Linked DNA regions of Homo sapiens: region 2 is linked to region 1. Evidence: fine-mapped expression QTL. A gene starts in region 1. The other region holds a variant in brackets. All regions are shown on one strand. Distances are between the middles of the regions. Region 1 holds the start of CAMK2G (calcium/calmodulin dependent protein kinase II gamma). Region 2 overlaps SEC24C (SEC24 homolog C, COPII component).

Region 1 (8,325 bases):
CAGGAGGACTGCTTGAGTTCAGGAGTTCAAGACCAGCCCAGGCAACACAGCAAGACCTCGTCTCTACTAAAAATAAAAAAAGAAATTAGTAGGACATGGTGGCTTGTGCCTGTAGTCCCAGCTACTCAGGAGACTGAGGTGGGAGGATCACTTGAGCCCAGGAGATAGAAGCTGCAGTGAGCTAGGATCATGCCACTGAACAGTCTAGGCGACATGGTGAGACTTTATCTTAAAAAAAAAAAGAAAAGAAAAAAAAAAATGCTGCACTCATTGACATAATCTGTGGTTTCAGTCTTTTTTTTTTTTTTTTTTTCCAGCTTTTAGACTCAGGAAGGATGGGAAAAAGTAGTGATTTGGAGAAGCCCACTGGTAGGCTTTTTCTGATGTACCTTCCAGGGCAAAGAGGGGCATCCTTCACTCCCTCCCAGTGTGAGGATTGCTTATTTAAATACTGTGTTTACAGTGGCTCATGCCTGTAATCACAGCACTTTGAGAGGCCAAAGCAGGAGGACAGCCTGAGGCCAGGAGTTCAAGACCAGCCTGGGCAACATAGCAAGACCCTCATTTCTACCAAAAAAAATTTAATTAAGCTCGGTATAGTGGCATGGACCTATAGTCCCAGCCATTCAGGAGGCTGAGGCAGGAGAATGGCTTGAGCCCAGGAGTTAGAGGCTGCAGTAAGTTAGGATCACACCACTGCACCACAGCCTGGGTGACAGAGTGAGACACTGTCTCAAAACAAAACAAATGTTGTATTTGCTTTCTCACTCTTTCCTATCTCCATGATCACATCTTCTCTCCAGTTTTAAATGCCGCACCATTAATAATTCTCTCAGAGTTCCTTGGAGAGAGGTCATGATCTCATCACTCCTAATTCTCCAAAACTAATCATAGAATCTCAGAGTTGGAAAGGACCCAGAAGTCCAATGGGTTCCAAACTTCTTTTTAGTCAGGGACTCTTAACTGCAACCAAATCTTATGTGGAACGTCAATATATATATGTTGACTAGCTGTTGCGGCCTGGCCTCGTAACCCCATGGATTCTGCTTAGAATATGGATTGAAAACCCCTCATGGACGTGAGACTTTGCAGGCTTCAAAGAGAAAGATGGTCCCACCCAGTGGGGTGCCTCTGGTGCTTATCAGGGTACTGATATCTTTGTCATTCCCTGTTCTCTGAGCTCTGAGCACAGCCTGAGTGCTGGTGCTGCCCAGGGGACTGGCTGCAACCAGAGCAACCCAGCCCAAAGACCCCAGGAGGTTGCCATAGACACTGAAGTGGAGGGAGCTGGTGAGCTTGTTATTATTTGTGTGTATCTTCCCTCTAATTGCTGTAGGGTAGCTGGAGGTTGTGTGGGCGCTACAGCAGTGGGGATAGAGGAGGGTGTATGTGCGAGGGTGTGTGTTTGTGTGTGCACACAGAAGTGTCTATAGGCTCCAAACCACCACCGTGGATGCGTCAGAGGCTGCGCTGTTGAGAGAAGTAGTGAGGGAGGAAGGGAAAAGTGAAGTAGAGATACAAAGGAAAAAGGAGGCTGGACAAGGTGGCTCATGCCTGTAATCCTAGCACTTTTGGAGGCCAAGACAGGATGATTGCTTGAGTCTACGAGTTTGAGACCAGCCTGGTCAAAATTGTGAGACCTCATCTCTATAAAAAAATGTAAAACTAGCTGAGTGTGGTGGCACATGCCTGTAGTCCTAGCTACTTGGGAGGGTGAAGCTGCAGTGAGCCGTGACAGCACCACTGTACTCCAGCCTGGGGGACAGAGCGAGACCCTGTCTGAGGGGTTAAAAAAAAAAGACGATGGATTGAGTTTTCTTCTAATTGTGTGAATTCTAATTTTCTACTTTATTTGAATGTTTCAAAAAGTAAAAGGCAGTGACAAACCTATGGTAGGGAGTCATATTTGTTGAAAGGCAGCTAGCTCCACTTATATAGTACTATGAGTCACCCCTGAGGCTTCACTCCAATATTTTTCTCATCACTCTTCCTTTTACCTAGAGACACAATGCAAAATGCTTTACGTGGTTACCCCAAAACACCTAGTGTTGAACCCTCCCCTCAGTCGGGATGATGTTCCTCTCACAGCAGGCACATGAGACTGGTCAGGGTTGTAGTCCTGTTTTACATTTGCCCCAGGATACTCCTAGGGGACTCCATGGCAGCCCTCCTCTGTGCTTGTTCTGACCTCTCAGGGTCTCCTCCACTCCACCTTCCATTCATGAATAGAAAGTTTCAAGTATCAGCCTGGAGGTCAGGAAGCAAGTTGCCTTGAGCACTTAGGAAGGGCACATTGATGATCAACTGATATTCAAAGTTGCTTCTGCTTTGGAGATGGATGACAGAAACTCAACACTTACTGGCATCCCCATGTATGCAATCTCATTGCCCTACCCCACACTGGGACTTGGGACCTGGCTCTCACCCAGGTGCTTTGAGATAGGAAGTGGCCTTACTCTCCACTTTACCTCCTGTTGCCCTGGGGAGGGGTAGGGCATGGTGCTCTGGCACTGCTACCCTTTCCCTTGGCCCTCTCTACCCTTCTCCCAAGAGAACTGCTAATGCTTTTCCTTTAGGGCTTCATGCCCTCCCATTCCCTAATCACCCCTACTGGGCAGTCTGGTTCCCAAAGCAGCTCTCAGGGCTGTTGGGTCAGGACAGGAGGGGAGCACTCCTGGAGAGCTCTGCCCCACCCACCCCTCAGGGAGGCAGCTTGGGAGGCTGGGACACCTCTCAGCCCCCTCCTCTGGCAGAGCGAGCCTGCTGGCGAGGGAGACCCGACTCCCAGTGGGCGTCCTGCTGTAATCAAGACTGAGTGGCAGCCTCTGGCTGAGCTCCACCCTGCCCAGTTGGGGCTGGCCTCAGCCTCAGGGGACAGCTGCCCAGGCAGGTCAGGAACCTGCCCAGCCTGTTTGTCCCCCATCAAGACAGTTATGTGCCTCTGTCCCACCAACTTGTGATGGTGGGGACAGGAGAAGGGATGGTATCTCCCTCTGCCATCCCACAAATATTTACTGAGGGTCAGGGGCTGAGTGTACAATGGTGAACAAAAGGTGCAGAGGCCCCGCTTTATTGGAGCCTACAATTCAGCGGGAAGCTAGTTTTTGTATTTTTAGTAGAGACAGGATTTCACCATGTTGGCCAGGCTGGTCTCGAACTCCTGACCTCATGATCCACCCGCCTCAGCCTCCCAAAGTGCTGGGATTACAGGTATGAGCCACCACGCCCGGCCCAGCAAATGTAGTTCTAATTAGGCACCAAGTACTATTCTAAGTGCCTTAGACCATTTAATGCTGACAGGCCTATGAGGTAGGTAATATTATTGTTCCCAGCCGGGCGAGGTGGCTCATGAAGCCACCTCTGTACTACATACATACTTCATTACTTCATGTATGTACTACATACATACTTCATTACTACAACATAATGAAGCCCCGTCTGTACTAAAAATACAAAAAAATTAGCCGAGCGTGGTGGCGCGCGCCCATAATCCCAGCTACTCGGGAGGCTGAGGCAGGAGAATCGCTTGAACCCAGGAGGTGGAGGCTGCAGTGAGCCAAGATCGCACCACTGCACTCCAGCCCGGGCAACAGCGCAAGACTCCGTCTCAAAAAAAAGATTCAGTGACTTACCCCAGGTCACAGAGCTGATCAGTGAGTTGCCTAGAAATCCAATCCAGGCAGTTTGATGCAAGTTCACGCTTAGACAGCTATGAGATAGCTCTACTGCCCCTTATACCAGTCAATGCATCACTACAAAATGTGGTAGGTGCCAGAAAATAAAAGTACGAGGGTGCCTTGCAAGAAAATGGGGATTTCCCCTTTCTTCCACTTTCTCTTCTAGCCCCCACTGCACAAAGCCTTTTCAAGTCTTCCTACTTCACCCCTTTCATTTCTGGCCGGATAGAGAATACTCTTTCATCTCTGCAGTTATGGTGCAGGAAGGCAGAGTCCTACCTGTATCCTTGCCCCTGGCCTGGTCTCCCTGATCAACCCGCGCCTGAAGGGTTTCTTTCTAATAATGGCCCTGGTGCTTGCGCAAGTCTAGACTGTCAGCTCCCAGAGGGAAGGCGGCTGGCAGCTGGCTCTGCGCAGGCTGGGGGCGCCTCCCGGGCGTGCAGCCTGGCACAGGCTCCTTGACCTTGGCTCTCTCCCCACGTGCTAGGAGCCCGGTTGGGGGCTCGGGACCCGCGTGTAGGACCCGTCCAGAGAGGTCAGTGGTCCAGACTCCTACACTCCTAACACATGCACCCTCGCATGCACGTTCCCGAGCCCGCGCGGGGTCCGCCCCGGGACAAGCCCATAAGTCGCGAACCTTCCAGCTCCGTCTGCCCAGACAGGTGGCCCGGAGCGGGGACCCCCTCCCCTCGGCTGCCCCGCGCGCCTGGCCCAGCGAGGGCGGCTCCGGGGCGGGGCGGGGCCGGCGGCGGGAGGCCCCTCCCCGGGGGCGGGCCGGGGGCCGGGCGGGGGGGGGGACTGGCGGGGCCTGGGGGCGGGGCGGGGCGGGCGGCGCGGGGGTGTCCCTCCCTCCCTCGCTCTCCCCGGTAAAGTCTCGCGGTGCTGCCGGGCTCAGCCCCGTCTCCTCCTCTTGCTCCCTCGGCCGGGCGGCGGTGACTGTGCACCGACGTCGGCGCGGGCTGCACCGCCGCGTCCGCCCGCCCGCCAGCATGGCCACCACCGCCACCTGCACCCGTTTCACCGACGACTACCAGCTCTTCGAGGAGCTTGGCAAGTACGGCCCGCCCGCCGCGGTCCCCTGCCTGCCCTGCCGCCCGGGAGCTATGCGGCTTCTCGCCCCGCCCCCCGGCCCTGCACCGGCCGCTGCGGCTCCCCCTCGGCCGCCCCACCCCCGCCTTTCCCGCCCGCCGCCTTCGGTCCCCGCGCCCCCCGCGCACTGCCCCGCATCCCCCTCCGCGCCCTGCAGCAACTGGCGGGGCCGCTGCTCCCCACGCGCCGCCGCGGACACCGCAGACCCCGGACCGCTCCCGGGTGCCCTCCAGCCCCGCCCCTCCGCACCCTTCAGGCGCCCCCCTCCCGACCACCTCCCAACGCTGCCCGGTTGCTCACTCCGCACCCTGAACCCAGGTCCCACGCGCCTCGCACTCAGGACCCTCCCCAGCCCTGCAGCCCTAGCTCTGCTGCGGAGCCCGGGCGTGGGGGGGCTGTTTGGCGCCCGGCCCCGCCCCCCGCGGGTGCCGCTCCAGGCTCCCAGCCCCGCGGCTGGGCAGTGCTGCGGCACCCCCGTCCCCTCCCCCCACCCCTGCAGTGGTCCCGGGAGCCGCGCCGCAGCCTCAGCATCCCCCTCCCCTCCGCACTGAGCTGGCCGCTGCAGCAGCCCCGGCCCCCCACCCCCACCCGCGGCGCCGAGCCCGGCCACTGCAGCCCCCGCCCCGCCCGCCCCCCCAGACGTTTCCAGAGCTCAGAGTGCGAGCTCCCGTTTGACGGGGACGTCAAGGAAAATAGCATGGGAAGGGGAGTTCTTGATGTCTGACTGTGTCCTCTCTTCCCTTGCTGTCAGTTGAGCCGGGATGCAGTGAGATGAAACCGGCTGTGGGGGGGTTTGAGCCTCACTTTGCCCCATGGTTGAGGGAGATTTCTCTTTCAGGGGATGATACCCTCTTTTTAATCTTTCCTTCCCCGACCTTCAACTGTTCCTGCTGAGAGAAGGGCAGGGTCTCTCTGCTCCCTTCTGCCCTGGTTCTCTTGGCCGGGACCGCAGGGCTGTCTGAGATGCAGCAGGTGTGTGTTTTCAGCATCGCCCACCCGCTCCTGATGTGCAGCCTGAGGTGGAGGCTGTTGCCTTGCCCAGGGACTGGATGAGGGGGTGGGAGCGCGGCACGCCACCCACATCTGTTCAGTGTCCTGCGGTGGCCGCGTCCTTTTGCCTCATGTTGGATGGTGGTGGTCACAGCGCCGGTGTGTGTGCATGTACGTGAGTGTGACTAGAGGTCTGGTGGTGGGAGCATCATCGTCCCCAGACTTGAAGTGTGTCTGTGTCACTCTGCCCTGCTCCGTGTCCCAGTTCTTTTCCCCTTCTCCCTCCAGGGGTGCTTTCTCTGTGGTCCGCAGGTGTGTGAAGAAAACCTCCACGCAGGAGTACGCAGCAAAAATCATCAATACCAAGAAGTTGTCTGCCCGGGGTGAGTGTTCCCTGTCTTGACCTCTTCCTGAGGGTGCCTCCAGGGGCCATGGTTTCTTTTGAGGAAGCCCCAGGAATTGGGGGTTGTGCGTTTTAGCACTTGGAGAGGAGTTGGAATTTCAGACTGGTTGGACTTTGTGTCAGGCTGAAGCCAGAAAAGGAGTTGCATGGGGGACTGGAAGCGCCCAGGTACAAAAGAATGAAGGAAGAGATGCAAGTAGCTGCAGTGGCCCCCAAAGGCTCAAGGGAGTTCGGTCTTCAGGGAGGTGGAGGATATGGGGGTAGTGGGTGGTACAGAATGGGGAGCTCTTAATTTGGGGCATTTGGAGCCTCTCCCTTTGGGGCAGTGGTGGCTACTGCAGGCCTTTCCTGGTCCCTGTGCCCCAGTGGTGACTTAGGATGGAAATGCAGTAAGTGAGCAGCTCTGACAAAGCCAGCCTCCCCTGCCCACCAGGCGGCAGAACAGACTCCCAAGGGAAGGGAATCTGTAAACATCAGGGGAGGCTGCTACTGGCGAGGGCTTCTCAGGAACAAATTCTGCCAGATGAACTTGATTGCTTTTTTGATCAAATTACAAAGTTGGTGGTGCAGCAGCAGATGTAGTCTGTCCTGGGTGGAGGGTGATGCCTCATGGTCTAGAAATCCCAAAGGCCCGGTTTGGGCAGGAACTGCACTGCCTCCGAGTCTGAGGAGCATAAAGGCCAAGGCCTTGGGGCCTCACTTGCGAGATCCTCCCAAGTACCTGAGGCTTGGAGGGTCAGGGCCTGTCTTTCACACCTTGAACCTACACTCTCTGAACTTCCTATTGGGTACTTGCCAAACTCACCTCATCTGATAGGTGTAGACCCAGCAATGTGTGAAGTGCTCTGGGAACAGGTCTGGTGAGTACAGAGGTCAGATCTCGGAGGGCTGCAGGGTGCAGCTGGGGGACAAAGGTTGTGAAACTCAGAGAAAGGAATTAGGGCTGGGCAGTAGGATGCCATAAATATATTAGGAGCCAGGACACATGCCCTGGGGAAGACATGGGCTTTGGCCAATAATGACACGGGTTTCTCTGGGATAAGAGACATAATAGATGTCCCAAATGCTTAGAGAAGCTCTACAATTCCACGGGCTTCTGTCGTGTTGGCAGTTGTTCTGGGACCTGTTTAGCAGGGCCGTGTCCACTCCCTGACTGGGGACTCTCTCTCCATCCCTCTAGTAGGGCACTAATTGCTGACTCCCATCCAGCTCCATCTCTTGCTGTTCGTGTACATTGCCTATAAAGTTGGACTTGTTTGTTTTCTTTCTCTCTGGGTACCTTGAGTCTGAGGATGGTTGCCATAGAGATATGTGGGCAGTCAGATACCCTGGAGTGGGGGTGGGGGGGACAACAGGGGCTGGGCTCTCTGGCAGACATCCTCTGGCCAAGGATGGAAGGTGCAGGCAGGAACAATGGCTTGAGGCTGGATACCTCTCTTGCCCACACAGCAGAGCCCTGGTGCATCAGAAACAGGGCTGGCATCTGGTGTCTCCAGTTGATGATGCAATGCTTTGCTCTCTTCATCTCACCAGTGTCCTCTGACCCATGGGTAAGAGAAGGAGAGATGGCTGGGAGCCGAATTCTGGGATGTGAGGATAGGTGATGTGGTGACTTCCTGCAGCTGCCTGACTGGGGCTTTCATTTCCTACTCCTTCCCTACCTGCGTAAATTTCCATGACCTGTGTGATAGCCTCCCTTTCCCTTCCTCACCTCCTTTTAACCTTGTCCCATCTTTCCCAATGGATATCTTTCCCTGGCCAAACTGGATGAGACTTGATTTCTCGTTGATTTTTTTTTTTTTCCCCTCAAGAAGAGGATTCTTGTGTAAAAGTATATGCTTCAGACAGCAACTCCCCCTCTCCCAAGATGGATATGCCAAGACTGGGCTCTGTTGTGTGGCCTCATGTGCCAGGTTGACTTTGGGACAGAGGCACAGATGATAGGCACAGATGCCAGCCAGAGGGGTCAGAATGTGTAAGTGCCAGCCAGTACTGTGTGGAGGTGGGAAAGTGGAAAGGGGCTGTCTTGGAGATGGAGGGAACAAGGTGGGGCTGGACTATAGGTGTGGGCATGGGAGATGTGAACTCCTGGAGAGATCTGGGCCAGGGTAGCCATGGGCTGGTTCCCATGGGGTTAGGGAGTGAGGGCCATGGCTTCCCTGCAGA
Region 2 (8,325 bases), 120 kb after region 1:
GCAAACAGCTTGCTACCTCTTCATTACCTGGTGACTTGAGGCATGCATATCCTTTTATCTTGTATAAGTGAGTATCTAGAAGGGCTAGGCTAAAGGAAGAGAATGGGGAGGAATGGACATGGTAGATGAGGTGAAGATGAGGTCACAGGCATGCATGGATGGCACTAACACAGGAATGACATGCACAAACACCCACCCCCTGCACTTACTGGACTAGGAATGGCATCGGGGTCTATTCTGTGCCTGGTTTTCTGCTGAGGAGGCAGCTCACTGAGTTGCTTTTAGTGTTTTAATAATAAATGCAGCAGGGGAATACAAGGAGGGAGACAAAAGAACAAGAGGCAGATGTTACTTCTCTCAACCCTGTTGAGTTAGACATGAACAGCTGGAGCCCAGCTCATATTGCTGAAATCAAGCCCCCTCTAGATATGAAATTCCAAGTCTTTCTGGCCCAACACAGAGGCTTTAATGGCTCAGACTATGATGTAGAAAGATAAGGAAAGGGGCAAACAGGAGGCAAGCAGGAGTTACACAGGGAGGGGCTGAGGCTGAATGGAAGAAACCTTAAGGAAGAAGAAGAGGAGTGTTCCCCCTAAAAGGCCAAACCTCCCATTCTAAGGACTATCTTATGCTGAAAGAAGCCTCCCTTCATGTCCAACCAGACTCTCCTTCTCACTGAAGGAGGGGGAAGGAAGGAGAGGCTGCTTAATCCTCTTGAGTTCTCCTTGGCCAACAGGCTCCCTCACTGTGTTGGTTACCCAAAGGAGGAAGAGGGACGAGAACAGAATGGAATATGACAATGGCTAAGCATGGCAAGGTAACTGACATAGCAAATGTTACAGGTGGAACTATAAAGTGGCCCCTACTTGGCAGTACAGTCCTAGTCTCTATTCTGAGTCTGATAAGGAGGGCCTGAGGATTCTGATGGCTCCAAGGGTGCAATTCACCCTCTTCCTGAAAAAAGCAGCTCTCCAGTGGGACTTTACATACACACTGCCCTCATAAACTGTCGTTCACTCTTCCCCATCCACACAGCAGAAGCCTACCAAACAAAAGTACTGGGGACTTCCTCCTAAAACTGTCCAAGTAAGAGCAGAGAAACCAGTGAGGCTTTCCTTCTCTTAACATCTAACATCAGAGAATTCCCACCTGCTCTACCCATTAGGAAGAATGCCATCCTTCTAGATCTAAGGGGACAAGACCCAGTCACTGCTCCACAGAAGGACAAAGGCTACTATACTATGTATGTACAGTAGTGACAGAGTGCAGCCCTCAGACATCTACTGGTGCTGCTGCTCACTCTTGGTTTCCCTTCCTTCTCTGCCCAGCTATAGAGTAAAACAGCCCCCCAAAAGACTCCTAGAACCTCAAGTTCCAGTTCAGAATCAAATTATATGTAAGTTCTCCAAGAAGATGAACAAAAAGGGAAAATTATCAGAAAATGCTAGGCAAACATTTCATCTAGATTGACCTGCCTATCTGGCAGACACAAACCCTTCCTCAGGACCATGAAAGTTTCTACTTACAGGGCTTGGGATGGCATCAGGGTCCAGGCGCTTAGGAGGCAGTGGCTGAGGAGGCCCAGGCTGACTGCCAAAGGTGGGTGCTGCTGGGTAGGGGCCTCCATAATTAGACTGAGGGCCCCGGGCTGGTCCGAAGGAACCTGAGACAAGGACACAAGGTTGATGAACTCAAAATCCCATCCCTATCTCTTCTTAAGGCCTCAGGAAAATGACTAGACTCCTAAAAACATAGAATTATGAGGCACACTAATGCCTGGCAAAGACATTCAGAAAAATACCATGTTATCAGAACGACAAGAAAAAATAATGTCTTACAAACCCCATATCCTAGGAATAATACCCTGAAGCTACCCATCTAATTCACCACTTAGCAAGTAATACTAAAAACAAACAAATAAAAAACATCAAAAACCACCTGAGTAGCTGAAGCCTCTAGCTTCTAAGACAGACCTTGGGAAAGACTCACCATTTTGTTGGGGCTGATAGCCTGGCTGCTGCGGGGAGTGCATAGGTGGCAGTGGTCCCAGGGGCCCAGTCATCTGGGTGCCAGGGGGCAGAGCTTGAGGAGGTGAAGACACATGGTTGGGCTGGCTCACTGAGGGCCCTCCAAAACTCTGTCCAGGCAGGAGTGGACCAGTCATCGAAGGCAGCCGAGGACCCCCTGAAGCTGGGGGTGTGAAGCTGGAGGCCTGTGATGGGGCAGATCGCTGGGGAGTCTGGATCCCAGGATGACCTTGGGCCTGGCTAAGGGGAGGAGCCTGGCCCTGAGGATAGGAGCCATACAGACCAGAGTTAGGGAAACTTCCTGAGGCTGAAGCCAGCGATGTTGGTGGGCCTGAGAAGTAGAATAAAGGTAGAGTCAAAAGCCCAGTCATTCTGCCTCCTTGTTCGGTATATCACTTCCCTTTCCACACAAGAGGGGCAAATATGACTGTCCCATCTTCTGAGGCTCAGAGGCACAGGAAATACAAGGGAAATAAAAGAGATTCAGGTATAACCCCAGAGTCTGATGCCTCTGAACAGGGGACAGTAACATTCCTGTGTTCACAGCCACTCACCAAAGCCCAGCCCTGAAGAAGGAGGGGCTGGGGCCACAGCACCGCTGATCTGCATTCCAGACAGCTGCGTAGCCACCTGTGCACTTGTCGGGGGAGGGCCATAGGGCTGAAGCACAGGTGGCTGGTTGCCCACAGGGGCCAATGGGGACCCAAATGGCTGAGACCCAGGCAGCCTGTGAAAAGAAAGCAAGCAGAGGTGACTAGTGGGGCCAGGACACCCTTTGAAGTCTACAGAAGTGTCACATCATACAGGAAGCTACATTGTTTTGTGACATCTTACTCTCACACCCTGAGTTCTTTTATGGCTTCATACTTTTGTATATTTGTGGGTAAATTATATTCCTGATTATTCATGGCAAATCTTGTTTTCCATTAAGCTCACTCCACAAACATAAACCAAGCACCTTCAGGTCAAGTACTATTTACTCTGCTAACTAAATTACTGCTTCCTCTGCTTCAATTCTTTGACAAACCTCTTCAGTTTTGTAATCTGAAGCCCTGAAAGCACTGAAAGGGAAGGCACGCATAAGCATGCATGAACCTTAATAAATATGAAATCAAACAAATGCAGATTGATTGTCCAGCTTTTTTTTTTTTTTGAGACAGGGTCTCACTCTGCCACCCAGGCTGAAGTGCAGTGGTGTGATCACAGCTCATTGCAGCCTCAACTTTCCAGGCTCAGCTGATCTTCCCACCTCAGCCTCTCAAGTAGCTGAAACGAAAGTCACACGCCACCATGCGTGGCTAGTTTTCGCATTTTTTATAGATACGGAGTCTCGCCATGTTGCCTAGGCTGGTCTCAAACTCCTGAGCTCAACGAATCTGCCCGCCTCAGTCTACCACAGTGTCTTTCCAATAT[A/G]CTTTCCATTCAGTGTCTCCCTCTCTGATTATTCCCATCAGCACAAAAACATACAAACATCTCACACACACACACACACACACAAAAACCAACTATAGTGGAAACATCCCAAATGTCTATCAGCAGAAGAATGGATAAACAAAATGTGGCATGTAGCTACACAATGAAAAACCACTTAACCACAAAAAGGAATGGAGTACTAATATACACTACAACATAGTTGAACTTTGAAAATATTATGCTAAATTAAAGAAGTCAGTTATAAAATATCACATAGTATATGATTCTATTCTAATGAAAAGTCCAGAATAGGGAAATCTTTAGAGACAGAAAGTAGATCAGGAGTTGCTTAAGGTTGGAAGAATAGGGGAATGGGGGAATAGCTAAACAGGGGTAGTTAAAGAATGCAGTATTTCTTCTTCAGATGATGAAAATGTTCTAAAACTGACTGTAGTGATATCTGTCAATATACTAAATTGTGACAGCACATATCTGTCAATATATTAAAAACCACTAAATATACAAAAACACTTTAAACAGACGAATTGCACAGTATATGAATTATATCTCAAAAAACTTTTTAAAAATCCAACCAAATTACCTCACAGCCCCCTCAAACTTTTGCTCCCCTTTTAGCTAAACATTACAAAAGAATAGGTCTATACTCTGTCTCTACTTTTTTTTTTCTTTTCTTTTCTTTTGAGACAGAGTCTCACTCTGTCGCCCAGGCTGGAGTGCAGTGGTGCGATCTTGGCCCATCACAACCTCCACCTCCTGGGTTCAAGCAATTCTCCTGCCTTAGCCTCCCGAGTAGCTGGGACTACAGGTGCCCACCATCATGCCTGGCTAATTTTTGTATTTTTAGTAGAGACGGGGTTTCACTATGTTGGCCGGGCTGGTCTCGGAACTCCTGACCTCGTGATTCGCCCGCCTCAACCTCCCAAAGTGCTGGGATTACAGGCGTGAGCCACCGTGCCCAGCCTTACGTTTTTTTTTTTTTTTTTTTTTTTTTTTTGAGACAGGGTCTCGCTCTGTCACCCAGGCTGGAGTACAATGGCACTCACTATCTGTGGCTCACTGCAGCCTTGACCTCCTGGGCTCAAGCAATCCTCCCCCTAAGCCTCCCCTCCCAAGTATCTGAGACCACAGGCACACACCACCACACCTAGCTAATTTTTTTTATTTTTTGTAGAGACAGGGTCTTGCTATGCTGCCCAGGATAGTCTTGAACTCCTACCCCGGCTTCACAAAGTGCTGGGATTACAAACATGAGCACTGTGCCTGGCCCAACTCTAATCAAAGTGCCTTTCTCCGATAATCCCTTCCAGCCCGGACTGAGGTGTGGTTGTTCTACATTTGTTTCCAGAAGGTACTCCAATAATGACAGTGTCACCCTAGATTGATTTTTTTTTTTTTTTAGTTTTTGAGACAGGGTCTCACTCTGGCACCCAGGCCACAGTGCAGCGAAGCCATCATGGCTCACTGTAGCCTCAACCTCCAGGGCTCTAGCAATCCTCCTGCCTCCACCTCTGCTTCCCAGGCACACCAACAATGCTCAGCTATTTTTTTTTTTTTATAGCGACAGGATCTCCCTATGTTGCCCAGGCTGGTCTAAAACTTCTGGCCTCAAGTGATCCTCCTGTCTCAGCCTCCCAAGGTGTTGAGATTACTACAGGCATGAGCCACTGCACCTGGCCTCTAATTTAAAAAAAAAAAAAATTAGGCCAGGTGCAGTGGCTCATGCCTGTAATCCCAGTACTTTGGGAGGCCGAGACAGATGGATCATTTGAGGTCAGGAGTTCAAGACCAGCCTGACCAACATGGTGAAACTCCATCTCTACTAAAAAAATACAAAAATTAGCCCAGGCGTGGTAGTGCACACCTGTAATCCCAGCTACTCAAGAGGTTCAGACAGGAGATTCACTTGAACCTGGGAGGTGGAGGTTGCAGTGAGCCAAGGTCACACCACTTCACTCCAGCCTGGGTGACAGAGCGAGACTTCATCTCAAAAAAAAAAAAAAAAAAAAAAAAAAAAATTGGCCAGGAACAGTGACTCACACCTGTAATCCCAGAACTTTGGGAGGCCAACACAGGTGAATCACTTGAGGTCAGTTCAAGACCAGCCTGGCCAACATGGTGAAACCCTGTCTCTACTAAAAATACAAAAAATTAGCCTGGCATGGTGGTCATGCCTGGAATCCCAGCTACTTGGGAGGCTGAGGCAGGAGAATCACTTGAACCCAGGAGGCAGAGGCTGCAGTGAGCTGAGATCGTGCTATTGCACTCCAACCTGGGCAATAAGACCAAAACTCTGTCTCAAAAAAAAAAAAATATTACTGAGATGTAATTTCCATACCATTAAATTCACTTCAAGTGAACAATTCAATGATTTTTAGTAAATTTAGTTATGCAACCATCACCAGAATCAAATTTTAAAACATTTTCATCATTCCAAAAAGATGTCATGTCCATTTGCAGTCCCAAGAACTTTTTTTTTCACCCATCCACAGCCAGCCTGAGAGAAACAGCACTCCTTATCTCCCCTTTCCAGCGTGCAGACTTTTTTCCCCTAGTCAGCTTGTTCAATGAAGGTGCAGCCCAGGTCCAGACTTTATAAACAATGTCTCAGTTCCAAAACTACTCTCAGGAAAGCCCAAGGACTCATCTGCCTTCCCCAGTACCTGCTTAAATTTAAGGCCCTGGCTTCTCAAGATGATGAATCCACCCAATCTACAGGCAGCTCCAGAGTCAATTTACCACTCTGATTTTCAGTCCTCACTTGATGGCCAGGCACAGTGGCCCATGCCTGTAATCCCACCACTTTGGGAGGCCAAGGTGGGCGGTTCACCTGAGGCGAGGAGTTTGAGACCAGCCTGGCCAACACGGTGAAACCTCATCTCTACTAAAAATACAAAAATTAGCCGGGCATGGTGGCCCACATCTGTAGTCCCAGCTACTTGGGAGGCTGAGGCAGGGGAATCGCTTGAACCTGGGAGGTAGAGGTTGCAGTGAGCAGAGATCGTGCCACTGCACTCCAGCCTGGGCGACAGAGCAAGACTCTGTATTTAAAAAAAAAAAAAGATTTTCAGTCCTCACTTGGTCTCTAAAACTTAAGAATTTCACATTTTCTTTCAAGCTTAACTTTGCACTTAAAAATTTTTTTTGTTTCTATTTTCTCTCTCCTTTCTAGACTTTGGTAGCAGAGGGTTTTCAGATTATGTCAATCTACCACCCGGTTGAAACTTTTTTTTTTTCCTGAGACGGAGTCTCGCTGTCTGTCGCCCAGGCTGGAGTGCAGTGGCAAGATCTCGGCTCACTGCAAGCTCTGCCTCCTGGGTTCACGCCATTCTCCTGCCTCAGCCCCCCAAGTAGCTGTGACTATAGGAGCCTGCCACCGCGCCCAGCTAATTTTTTGTATTTTTAGTAGAGACGGGGTTTCACCGTGTTAGCCAGGATGGTCTCGATCTCCTGACCTTGTAATCCACCCGCCTCGGCCTCCCAAAGTGCTGGAATTACAGGCATGAGCCACCGCGCCTGGCCTGAAACTCTGACTCACTCCAACTGGGTAGTTTTCTTTATCTCTACACTGAAACTGCCTTTACCAATGACGCCAACCTTGCCAAATTCAATGGTCAATTCTCCATCTTCATCTTACAATTTGGCAGCATCTGACACAACTGATTACTCTCTCACCTTCTTGAAATACTCTCTTCACCTGACTTCAGGACACCACACTCTCCCGGCTTATCTCCCACCTCACTACTGCTCTTTCTCATTGTCTTTTGTTTTTTTTTTGTTTGTTTGAGATGGGGTCTTACTCTGTCATTCAGGTTGGAGTGCAGCGGTGCGATTTCGGCTCACTGCAACCTCCGCCTCTTGGTTTCAAGCCATCCTCCCACCTCAGCCTCCCAAGAAGCTGGGACCACAGGCATGTGCCACCACACCCGGCTAATTTTAGTATTTTGGTAGAGACAGGGTTTCACCATGTTGCCCAGGCTTGTCTCGAACTCCTGAGCTCAAGCAATCTGCCTGCCTCAGCCTCCCAAAGTGCTGGGATTACAGGAGTGAGGCACTGCACCTGGCCCCTCATTGTCTTTTAATGGCGGCTCCTCTTTACTTTTAAATGTTGCTAAGCTCCAAGTCTCAGTCCTCAATTCCATTCTTTAATCTCAATACTCACTTTTTAAATGATTTCATCTAGTCCCACGGCTTTAAATATCTATAGACTGAGGACTCCCAAATTTTTATCTCCAGTCCTAGCATCAGTCTTGAGCTGCAGATTTGTATATGCACCTGCCTACCTAACATCTCTACTTGAATAGAGTTTATATGAGGGACTTGAGCCTTTGTGGATTTTGGTATCTGTTGGTCAGGGGAGGTCCTGGAACCATTCCCCCATGGATACTGAGGAATGACTGTAGTGAGATTTGGGATACATCTTGAAGGTGGAATCAATAGAATTGGATGTGGGTTATACGGCATCATATTTGCATATAACCTCCCATATACTTTTTTTTTCCTGAGACGAAGTCTCACTCTGTCGCCCAGGATGGAGTGCAGTGGCACAATCTTGGCTCACTGCAACCTCTGCCTCCTGGGTTCAAGCGATTCTCCTGCCTCAGCCTCCCAAGTAGCTGAGATTATAGGTGCCCGCCACCACACCCAGCTAATTTTTGTATTTTTAGTAGAGATGGGGTTTCACCATGTTAGCCAGGCTGGTCTCAAACTCCTTACCTCAGGTGATCCACCCACCTTGGCCTCCCAAAGTGCTGGAATTACAGGTATAAGCCACCACACCCAGCCTCCTCCCATGTACTTTAAATCATCTCTAGATTACTTATAATACCTAATACAATGTAAATCAGGGGTGTCCAATCTTTTGGCT

Evidence for each region. PIP is the estimated chance that this variant, and not a neighbour inherited with it, causes the effect.
Region 2: its variant is the best candidate, but not a certain one, in a credible set for the expression of CAMK2G in whole blood (TOPMed, PIP 0.69).

The regions. Positions count from the first base shown.
Region 1 is chr10:73,870,803-73,879,127 of GRCh38, reverse strand. CAMK2G (calcium/calmodulin dependent protein kinase II gamma) reads left to right here and starts at 4,573. Exons shown (of 23, transcript NM_001367534.1): 1 at 4,573-4,731; 2 at 6,045-6,139. The coding sequence starts at 4,667. RefSeq lists an enhancer at 3,851-3,960 and silencers at 4,181-4,460, 4,471-4,630, 4,691-4,860, 5,121-5,180.
Region 2 is chr10:73,754,051-73,762,375 of GRCh38, reverse strand. SEC24C (SEC24 homolog C, COPII component) reads right to left here. Exons shown (of 23, transcript NM_198597.3): 4 at 2,582-2,754; 5 at 1,990-2,358; 6 at 1,527-1,663. Among named protein-coding and RNA genes, the nearest start is that of SEC24C, 14 kb to the right of the region's middle. RefSeq lists an enhancer at 2,502-2,601. The variant A/G (reference allele first, on the strand shown) is at 3,441.